Linked DNA regions of Homo sapiens. The protein of the gene in region 2 interacts with the protein of the main gene of each other region in a pairwise test. Each region holds a gene or a part of one and is shown on either strand. Other genes may lie near its edges. The genes, in order: SPRED1, LIMS2 and RCHY1.

Region 1 (3,753 bases), on a different chromosome or scaffold from region 2:
TTTCCCTTTTCTCTTTTTTAAAGCCATTGCTCATAGGGATTTAATTACAGTAGGGACTATTTTTAACATTCTTTAGTTTCTTTTTCACCTGATTTCAACCTTCAAGAAAAGTGAAAATCACCAGTTTCCTGGGAAACCATTAACCCTTTCTAGATAGCCATTGTGGTAAAATCCAGTAGGGCCTCATTCTGAAATCCTCGAGTACATGCTTATTATTTGAAATTAAAGTTTTATGTAGAGAAATGGATAACTCCTAGGCTGACTGTGAGAATATATTTAATCAAGAATTAGTGGGGGATCTGTTATGTGTAGGGCTTTGCTTTAATGCCAAACCAAGTAAGGAAGAAATAAATTAGAATAAAGCATTTCTTAGATTGTTTCACATTTATGTTTAAAAATCTTACTTTTCAAAAATAGTAAACATACTCTAGAGCAAAAGAATTTGTGTTATAAATAGTAGAGGAAATAGCCACATACATGTTTGTTTTGTAGGTAATTTGCACAGAGACTGTTTAATACTCCAGTCAAATGTTTCCGATAGATATAACTGTACCATATTTTACATTATTGAATTAGCCTTCTAAATAGAGTTTTAAACATTTAAAGGCATATTATATAATACTTAAGAGTCTTTGTCCTTTGGTATTGAGTGTATATAGCACTGCATGTCCTTTTGTCAATTTGGCCAAAACATTTGGAGAAGTGAAGTAGCTGAAATAATAAGCATTTGGCTTATTAGGTTCACGTTAGCCAGAAACACTTCCTGTGTCAGTATTAGGCTTTCTAATAGCAAGTTGGGATTATATTAGATTTTGGAATTAGGTTAACTAGAATTAGACCATGTATGATAAACGTACTATGTTGTAATCTGAGTTTGAACTGTTTTTCCGTAAATAGAAAGCAAATTTTTATGGTTATATCATTTAGTGCCTCATAAAAAATATACCCAGTGGTGAGTTATTTTTGATAAGTGTAAATAAACATATGTTCACCCCATACATTTTACGTATGTATATGTATGTACACACACACACATATATATATATATAAAATTGGAAAACATTCTAGAAATAAATGGAAGCACTGGAAAGCTGTGTAATATTAAGCCATCTAATGTTTGTTTATATAGATGTGGTGTATACATAATATAAAAATTTGCTTATTATTCAGTTGGCCTGTGTAAAAATCAGCTAAATGACTGCATACTTGCTTCAACTTAATTTCCCTCTGCTTTCTCACTTAAAACTTTATGATCCTGAATTATATATTTTAAACACATTATGATACCATACCTAGAATTCCTCTCCTTACAAACTTTTGTAAATTTGTCATTTTTCCCCAAAAGACCTTCTCTCTTCCCCTCTTTCAACACTCTGTCCCTCTATGTTGCCTCTGTACTTCGTACATATGTATATTAGTTTTAAAATCATATAATATTGTGATTATTTACTTATTTCTATGACCGCTATTCTGTAATTCCCTACTTTTGTTTGTATGCCTAGCACAGTGCTTGATGGCAAATGCTCTACAAATGTGGTTGAATTAATGGAGCCTCATTACCTCATTTTTTTGTTTTCTCTGAATTTATGCATTTGAGATCATTAGCTGTATTAGAAAAAAAGGCCGAAAAAGAGTATGGGAAAAGTAAATTATTACCCGTTTAAGAAGGCTTACCTTTTTTTTTAAGAAAAGACAAAAATTGGCCTCATTTTTGACATGTTTTGTTTCTGCAAGTTTGAGAAATAACTTAGATCAGGCTTAAAAACTGTCCTAAAGTGCTGTTGGGATGTTTGGATGTGCTTGGCCTCTGAGTTATGTGGTGTATCTGAAGACCCGTGTTATATCCACAAGAAGGTAGACATTTGTGTGTCTGTCTTTTTTGGCATAGGAAGCTCAAAATTTAGGAATATGTATCTCCAGCTGTTTATCAGTTTTAAGTCTTTAAATTGCTCTCCCTTTCCCCCATGGTTCCACATTAGTGCCAAGGGTGAGGAACTGACTAGGGATAAAGAAGTGAAATTGATCAGGAAAGGGTAAACAGCAGCAGATTCCGTGATTTTATACTGCAGCTGTTGGTGACTGAGAACTGCCTAAGGGGAAAGTGTAACAATTTAGCCTTTTCTCTGGTGTTGTATAACTTGAACTTGACTAGTCTTACCCAGTTTGGGGAAATGATTGGTAAAGACAAGCCTGCTTTTCTTCTCCATCTTTCAGTAGGAACAGGAACGACATTAAAAATGCCAATTTAAAAAATGCTTCACCCCATGTAAGAGTAGTAGTTTATTTCAGATAATGTACAAAATGATCTCTAAAGTGAGTAATAATTTATTTGCAATTCTGCCATTAAATAACAGCTGCTAAAATTTTGGTCTACATGGAAACCTTTCTTATGATGTTGGTGATGAAACATATTCATTTATTAGATTTTTACTGTATGCCAAGCACTGTTATAAATGCTTTATGAAAGCATTATGTAGTTTATATATATACATGTGTTTCTTCTCAGTGGAATGGAATTGCACAGTGGGTACAATTGTAGCTTAATGTGAATATTTTCTTAAGTCGTTAAATATTCTAGAATATAATTTTTAGTGGCTACATTATGTTCAGTGTATGATATACATTAGTTGTAATCAGTCTCCTATTGTTGGATATTTTAGTTATTTTTAAACAATGTTGCATACCATCCTGAGTTCTGTCTCCATCCAGATCTCTTACTTTTCCCTTGAGATAGTCTAAGAATGGAGTTAAAAGAGAGGAAAATATTTAATTTTATTCTTTCTGTTAAATTGCCCTCTAGAAAAGAAGTATTTAGTATATGAGAGTGCTTAAACTTTGAAATGTCTGTACAGTTGTCTGAATTTTTCTTTGCCAATTTTGAAGGTAGAAAATGAAGTCTTATTTTTTAAATGCTTTATGGTAAAATAAAATTGATTTAAAAACTTATTAGGTTGTTTTGCGGTAACTAGAATGTTTTTAAATGCTATATTATAAATAGAATTTAAGTGCTCATGTAAAAGCCATTTGTACATCATTTATTTAACTCTTACCATCTTCTGTGCAGTATGGTATAGTCTAAAGAACACTGGACTTGAAATTGGGAGATGGATTTCTTTTGTAGCTATTTTTAATTTATTCTCTAATCCTGGGCTCTGTAGGCCTCAGTTTGCTGATTTATAAATTAAAGAATTTGGACTAAGCATCATATGTGCCCTTCCTTTGTTGATGGTGTATGATTTAGACTTTGTTAATTTTATTATATTGTTATTTTTGACATACTTAAACAAAAGACTTAAGAGTAGAAGTGGTAGGAAGATTAGGTAAAAGCATGCATTTTGAACAATTAAGATACAAAATTTGGAAACAATTGGTATATTAATAGTCTTTTAAGACTTACTTTGGGCTTAATAGCCATGTATCTTTGATGACACAAAATTTTGTACTACTCAATTTTGTTTTTTATGTATTTATTTATTTTAAAGAGGCAGGGTCTTGCAGTGTTGTCCAGGCTGGAGGGCAGTACAGTGGTATGATCATAGCTCACTGCAGCCTTGAACTCCTGGGTTCAAGTGATCTCCCACCTGTGCCTCTTAAGTAGCTAGGACGACAGGTGTGCCACCACACCTGGCTAATTTTAAAATTTTTTGTGGTGATCGGGTCCTGCCCAGGCTGGTCTCAAATTCCTTGGCTCAAGTGATCCTCTTGCCTTGGCCTCCCAAAGGGCTGGGATTACTGGCATGAGCCACCATGCAC
Region 2 (3,753 bases):
TAAAAGGCCCCTCCTGGCTGTGCCGAAGGGCCCTGGGGCTGGACTGATTGCGGGCCTGGCTCACTGTGGGCTTTTCCCCTGTAGTTCGCATTTCACCCCTCCCAGAAGGAAACCCACCACTGACTCTGGGGACAGGCAGTGCCCAGTATGGATGAGATTTGCTCCCCCTCACCACACTCCCGTCTCGTCTCAAAGATTCATACTCTTGTCTTTTTTATTTATTTTTTATTTTGAGACAGGGTCTTGCTCTGTTGCCCAGGCCTGAGTGCAGTGGCACTCAGCCTCGGCCTCCCAGGCTCAAGCCATCCTCCCACTTCAGCCTCCAGAGTAGCTGAGACTACAGGCTTGCACCACCACACCTGGCTAATTTTTTTGTTTTCTTGTATTTTTATTAGAGATGGATTCTTGCCATATTGCCCAGGCTGGTCTCGAACTCCTGGGCTCAAGGGATCCGCCCACCTTGGCCTCCCACAGTGCTCTGGATGACAGGCTTGAGCCATTCTGCACACGCACCCAGCTACCCTCTTGCCTGCTCTGTGTTTGGGTGGTTATGTGTTTATTGGAGGCAGTCAGTTTGAAACTAACTCATGGTGCAGAGGATGGAACCATGGAAGACTGAGCAGTCTGGATTCAAGTGTGGACCCCGCTCTGCTGTGTGAGCTTGGGCAAGTTACTCAACCTCTTTGAGGCTTAGGTCCCTTTTCTGGAAGAGGCCATAATAATAGTAGCTGCAGTATTGCCCTGGGGATTAAATGAGAGTGTGAATACAGAGCCGCTCACCTGTGCTGGGTGGTGTTCTGTGTGCGAGACTCTCTGGTCCCTGAAGAAGGGGTAATAGGGGCCCAAGTGGGAGTTGACTGGGCCCCTGACACCCCAAGGGGTGGGCACTACAAGCACTGAGCAGCCTGGACCCTGGGTTAGAGCGATTTTCCTGATCCTGCAGAGCGTCTTCACTTTTTAATACGAGGTGTGTCTGTCGGGCGCAGGCCCCCGCGTGTGCCCCATCTGCACCCCTGACCAGCTCTGACTCACTCCTCCTGTCTCCTGCCCCCAGCAATATGTCGGACGCCTTGGCCAACGCCGTGTGCCAGCGCTGCCAGGCCCGCTTCTCCCCCGCCGAGCGCATTGTCAACAGCAATGGGGAGCTGTACCATGAGCACTGCTTCGTGTGTGCCCAGTGCTTCCGGCCCTTCCCCGAGGGGCTCTTCTATGAGGTGAGGACACTACTGAGGGCTTTCTCAGACCCAGCTCGGAGTCTGCCCTCTATGAGCGGGTGGGCCGGGCTCCATGCAGTGGTCCCGACTGGTGACAGGGCCAGGTCTGGAGCCAGCCCAGAACCAGGCTTGAGCTCCTGCACGGGCCCATCCTTCACCTGTGAGATGTGAACAGCACCCCAGGTGCCCTGGGTGCTAACAGAGAGCCACCTTTCACCAGCCTCCTCTGGGCAGATGCTGGGCAGGCCCTGGGGGCAGGAAGAGCCTGCCCTGGTGGTGCTTGCCCTCCCTGGGGACTAGACAGTGAGCACAGCAACCGCATGGCCCACCAGCTGGTGCTGATGCCCTGGGGGTCAGGGTTCCCGGGGTGGGGTGCGGTGGTGCTCAGGGAAGGTGAGGTTTGGGCACACCTGAGGGGAGGGAGACATACTGGGCAGAGGGCACCGCATATGCACATACCCTGTGGTGGGAGAACATGGGGTGTATGGAGAGCAGTAGGAAGACTGGTGTGATGGAAGCCGAGGGCATGAGAGGGAGAAGGCCAGGAGCTGAGGAAAGGGAGGTGGATCTCGCTTGGCCCCACGGGCCTCTACGGAGCCATAGGCTTCCCCTCTGCAAGAGGCAGGAGCCACCTCGGGGTGTGGAGCAGAGGAGTCACACTATCTGCTGACATTTGAAAAGGTGACCTGGCCGGGCGCGGCGGCTCACGCCTGTAATCCCAGCACTTTGGGAGGCGGAGGCAGATGGATCACCTGAGGTCAGGAGTTCAAGACCAGCCTGGCCAACATGGTGAAACCCTGTCTGTACTAAAAATACAAAAAATGAGCCTGGCATGGTGGCAGGTGCCTGTAATCCCAGCTACTCGGGAGGCTGAGGCAGGAGAATCACTTGAACCTGGGAGGCAGAGGTTGCAGTGAGCCGAGATCGCGCCATTGCACTCCAGCCTGTGGGACAGAGCAAGACTCCATCTAAAAAAAAAAAAAAAAAGAAAGAAAAAAAAAAGGAGGCTTGTGGCCGCTGTGCTGAGGAGAGGATGTAAGGCGGGGCAGGAACAGAGGCTGGGCCAGGAGGCTGGGGGGACCAGGAGCTGAATTAGTGCAATCACCCAGATGAAAGTGAAGGGGCCCCCACCAGCTCACAGGAGCAGTCGTTAAATCATCAACAATCTTGGGAGCTGGTTGGGCAACAGAGTTATTGTTTAAAAATTAAATTATATCAGCGTACAATGGGATACAATTTTATTAAAAACAAAGGTAACAAATACTCAAAGCATACCACTTGCTAATTATTTTGTTCCACTTTACTATCGTCTATGCTGATGGGGTTATTTCTGTCCATTGTGCTGGTGTGGCCACTGCACATCTCCCCTCAAGTCCACATCGATGTCATGTTGGCAGCCAGGAGTTGGCCATGACGGGAATATTCACACCATGGACACTGGCAAACGCCCCACAGCAGGGCCTGCCTCTGCGCCCCAGAGAGCTGGCTGTTGAGCATTTACCAGAACATCACTTGTGCTTGTGGTGGCGGTGGTGGCCAGGGGTCAGATGCTGGCTCTGTTTCAAGGTAGAGCTGATGGGACTGGCTGGTGGATGGATGTGGGGCCTGTGGTCCGCCTGGCAGAGCAAGAGCCGCTGTTCCTCACAGTGTCTTCAGCCTCCTGAGGAATGCTGTCTAAGTGTAGAGGCAGCGGGAGGGGTGGGCAAAGCTCTAGGAGGGGTGGCCATATGCCCAGAACAAAGCCTCTCTCTCTCACACACAGCAGGTGCCCAGAAGATTTTCATTGCTGAAAGAGTTTAAGCCCTTCCTGACTCTACAGGTCACTGGGTAGGGCTATATCCAGTTTAGTCTAATAAGACACTCATTTTAGAGAACAGGGAAAAACCAATTAAAAAACAGAAAATACAATTGTTAGAGGAAAGCAGAGGCAGGCTTTGGCCCCGCTTGTGGCCAGCACAGGGGCCCTCGCTGGCAGCTGCCGCCTGGAGGGTGTGCACACTGGCTCCTGCTGGCCGCAGCCCTGAGCTCTTCCCACTTCCCCGTGCCCAGGCCCTTCCTGCGTTCCCTTCCTTCTGTCTCCTATACCCGGGTCTTCATGGCCTCTGAGAGAGCTGGATACTCCCACAGAGAAGGTATACGAAATAGGACCAAGTGACACTACACTTCAGACTGGATCTCATCCCTCCTGGCTTAAAACCGCCTCGCCCCCAGCCTGTTCTCCGGACCAACAGGGTCCAGATCCTCAGTAGACACCAGTGGCCCTTTGACAGGTGGCCTCACGGACCTCTCCAGCTTCCACGGGGGCACCTCCCTTTGCACCCCACCATCCCAAAAGGGCCAGTGTCCTCTCTGGCCAGGCCTGGGACCCACTGCTCCAGCCTCAGCCCGGCATGCCCCTGCCTCAGTGCCTCATCCCCTGCTGTCAGGTCCTGACCCAACAAGGGCCTGGGCTGCTCATGGGGATGATAGGTGGTTTGCTTGTCCTCTCTCTGCGACCCCTTTGCAGTTTGAAGGCCGGAAGTACTGCGAACACGACTTC
Region 3 (3,753 bases), on a different chromosome or scaffold from region 2:
ACTATAGATACAAATTCTGCGGCAGGGCAACCTAACTTATTTCAGGGACAGATAATTCTAGTGTACTTAAGATCTGTCTAAGTATTTAACATTCCTGTAAGCATTATAAAAAAGAATAGGAAAAGAATGAAGTTGTCTGTTAAAATGTTAACAGTAGTTCTCTCTGAAAGAAGGGATTGTTGAGAGTTTTTTACCTTCTTTCTTATAGAGGTATAACCTATACTTATGAAGTCAGAGAAAGAAAAAATATTTAAGGGTAAAGTTATGTATTTTAAGTTTTGCATACTGAATGGTAAGGGATGTAGATTTTATTCTTATTGTGAATGAGAAGTGTTGAAGGATTTTAATCATCGAGTTGACGTGTCATGAACAAATACTTGAAGCAACCCTGGGTACCGAAGCCTAGAGACTTTGAGTACATTTGAAAATTGCTTTAAGTGCATGACTAGACAGCATAAACGAGTGATTGCATATGTACTCTGCATTATTTTGGACATGTTTGGATCCTAAGTTAAAGAAACAATCAGATTGTGAAATAAGACTTTCTAACTAGAGTCACCTAAAAAAATGAAAGGTTAATCTATCAAATCATGAGCGCTTCAATGATATGGATGACTAGCTGTGAGGGGTATTTTAGCAAAATAGAAGTTTAGATCAAAAGCAATGTGGTAAAAGTGGGTTTGGAGTCAAACTTGGATCTGATTCCCAACTCCAACATATAGTGTCTGTTATTTACCCCCAATGTGTCATTTTAACCTCTAAACCTCAGCTTTCTTGTCTATGAGGACAACACTTACCCCACAGAATCATTGTAGTAATTAATGCTAATGCATGACCCAGCACAGATGTTGAAAACAGAAGAGCCTTATTATTATATACTCACTCCTATTTAAAGATCCAATGATTCAATGATTAAAAACAATAACATGATTGGTTTGGCAGAATAATACCAAACATAAAAAGTAATACATCTGGACCAAGCACAGTGGCTCATGCCTGTAATCCTAGCCCTTGGAAGGCCGAGGTAGGAGAAATGCTTGAGCCCAGGAGTTCAAGACCAGCCTGGACTTTGTTTCTACAAAACAATTAAAAATTAGCTGGGCATGGTGGCACACACCTGTAGTCCCAGCTACTCAGGAGGCTGAGGTGGAAGGATCAGTTCAGCCCAGGAAGTCAAGGCTGCAGTGAGCTACGATCACTTCACTACACTCTAGCCTAAATGACAGAGCAAAACCACTTCAAAAAAAAGTATTAGATCTGGAAAACTAGTCTTTACTTATCTGTATACTAATTGGTAATACCCAGGAACATCCTTTCCCAAATGAAGATCAGCACTGCTGCTCTGGCCAGGCCAAGGAAACAGATGAAGGGAAAGAACATAAGAAGAGTGGAATACAGAAGACAAGAAGGTGGGATAAAATAAAGATCTGAGTCCCAAACTGCTGCCTTTATCTAGGTGAATAAATTTCAACAAAAGAAGAAATAAATGTGCCAGAACTCTTAGGCTTTCTAGTTAAAAGGCTAACTTCCTTATTCAAAGAAGATTCAAATAGCTCAAAGTTGGAAATACAACTGGTGCTCAATAGGTACTTATCAACTGATAAATGTACATTTTACATCCTAGCCTAATGGTAAAGCTATTACGGAGATAACAGTGTCAAAGTCGGCTGGATCATCAAACATATTTGTTAACTTTGTTCCTGAAGTAAGAGGTATATTTAATTCCACTACATGAGCCCAAAAAAGTATTATGAAATCAGAGATCTTGCCAGGAATATCCCATGCCCTTCCCACTCATCCATCCCCTATTTTCACACGCTTAGGGAAGAAATATTCTATTCATTTACAATAAGACATCCACTCCTTGCATAAAGAAAAATGAGTACATTGATCAAATATGATGAACAATAGAATGTACTGCTGTGAGGACAAGGACTTTTATCTTTATTGTTCACTGTTGTCTCTACAGCATCTAGAAACATATCTGCCACATAGCAGTTGCTCAATAAATACTTGCTAAATGAAGGAATGAATGACTCTTTGAAGAAATAATTTTGGGCAACCTAAAAAAAACTGTTTTCAATGTTGATGTTTTTATTAAGGCTTTGGAAGAGTCTTATTATTTTACATAATAATTTTCCCAACTACTTTTATGGAATACCTCAAAAGAAAGAAAATTTCTTTTACATTATAGAACTGATGATACTGCCCTAATTGAGCCAAACATAGAAAACTTTGGAAAAAACTTTCTATAAAACAGTTTCAATATAATTTTATTAGCAGTTATTACATCAAAATTCACATTTAGAGGATCCAGAGGACTGTCTTAGAAAATTCTAAAGCATATTTAATTAGGTTTTAACAGTAAGGGAGAACTTAATATAACACAGCCCTTAAAAAGTCAAGACTACTACTGAAAATTAAGTGCAGTTCTATCAAGAACTAGAAATGAACTGCACGCGTAGTGTCACTTAAAGCAAAGCTTCATGAAAATATAATACACTTCTATGAATGTATCAGTGGCAAACATCATTGGCTTCCAAAAAACTGACACTAAAGGAATTTCCAATCAAAACACAAGCACAGTGGCTTTCATTCAATATAGAGCTATGATAAGTCTATCAAGAGACCCTGAATCCTTACGTACTTGTAATATGATTTTATGCTGTGACACTAGTACAAAACACATCAACTCTAATGCATAGATGACGACACATGATAACACGATACCAAGGAAAGCCTTTTTCTATATCAGAAAATGCCAAGTTCTCCAGTACTGTGTAGGCTCGTCATTGCTGATCCAGTGAAATTCTACGTCCTCCAGCTTGAGCAGTATTATAGGATTCACAAATCTTACATTTCATGCCTAATATATGAAACTGAACAGTGGATCGTCCATTACAGTCATTGCAGAGAATCTGAAAAGAGATTAATTCAAATTAAGTATTTTAAACCTTATAAATACAAGTAGCATTGTCTACTCATAATCCCTTGAAAATCATATTAAAGATGTGAAAATACATACATAAGTCTAAAAATTTCCAAAAGTAGAAATTTCTTCTTATTTTTTCACTGAAAACTCTAAAAAGCTATTAAGGTGGCTCTGAATTCAGAAAATGAAAAGGCAGATTTGAGCAAAAAAAAAGCTTATTTTAAAATAGTTTCCAAATATTAAATAGTATAAATAGTACAAGCAAGAAAATTAACCTAGGCATAATCAGATGAATACCTGATACTTATAATTCAAAATAACAACATGATTTCATTATTTTTCAGTCAGAAATGTATCTCAATTAATAAAACCAAAATTTTTACACAAATAATATTTTTGCTTATTTTTTAGGTTTAGTATACTGTTCCCTGTCTTCTCTGCCTTAGGAATGAATTAAATTCCAAAAAGAGTGTTCCTAAAATTGAGTAAACAGAGAGGCTCTTCGCTCATCCCTACAATAACAATAAGATGCCGTTTAAGAATTAATTTCTTCTAGTGCTAAGTAAGAACCTGAAAAATAACAAAGGTGTTAACCTGAAAATCAATACATTACTATGCAAGAAAAGCACTAGTTTTTGAATAGTCACACTATAATAAGCAGAAAATTTCCAAATTTGCTCTAAATTATAATTTGGAAAATAATTATTTAAAAAATATGATCTAAATGGAGAAAGTGGATTAGTGGTTGCCTAGGCCTGGGGCGTTAGGGAATGACTGCTAATGGGTATGAGTGTTTCCTTTTTGGGATGATAAAAATGTTC

The links.
Region 1: the proteins of LIMS2 (region 2) and SPRED1 interact in binary tests that used the Homo sapiens proteins (3 or more experiments, as listed by UniProt).
Region 3: the proteins of LIMS2 (region 2) and RCHY1 interact in binary tests that used the Homo sapiens proteins (3 or more experiments, as listed by UniProt).

Annotation. Positions count from the first base shown.
Region 1 is NC_000015.10:38,255,789-38,259,541, forward strand, and holds part of SPRED1 (sprouty-related, EVH1 domain-containing protein 1), read left to right. Parts: intron 1-3,753. UniProt on the Homo sapiens protein: Tyrosine kinase substrate that inhibits growth-factor-mediated activation of MAP kinase. Negatively regulates hematopoiesis of bone marrow.
Region 2 is NC_000002.12:127,654,864-127,658,616, reverse strand, and holds part of LIMS2 (LIM and senescent cell antigen-like-containing domain protein 2), read left to right. Parts: intron 1-400; exon of another isoform or gene 401-587; coding exon of another isoform or gene 588-655; intron 656-1,054; coding exon 1,055-1,214; intron 1,215-3,720; coding exon 3,721-3,753. UniProt on the Homo sapiens protein: Adapter protein in a cytoplasmic complex linking beta-integrins to the actin cytoskeleton, bridges the complex to cell surface receptor tyrosine kinases and growth factor receptors. Plays a role in modulating cell spreading and migration.
Region 3 is NC_000004.12:75,479,749-75,483,501, forward strand, and holds part of RCHY1 (RING finger and CHY zinc finger domain-containing protein 1), read right to left. Parts: intron 2,919-3,753; coding exon 2,790-2,918; 3' UTR 1-2,789. UniProt on the Homo sapiens protein: E3 ubiquitin-protein ligase that mediates ubiquitination of target proteins, including p53/TP53, TP73, HDAC1 and CDKN1B. Mediates ubiquitination and degradation of p53/TP53; preferentially acts on tetrameric p53/TP53.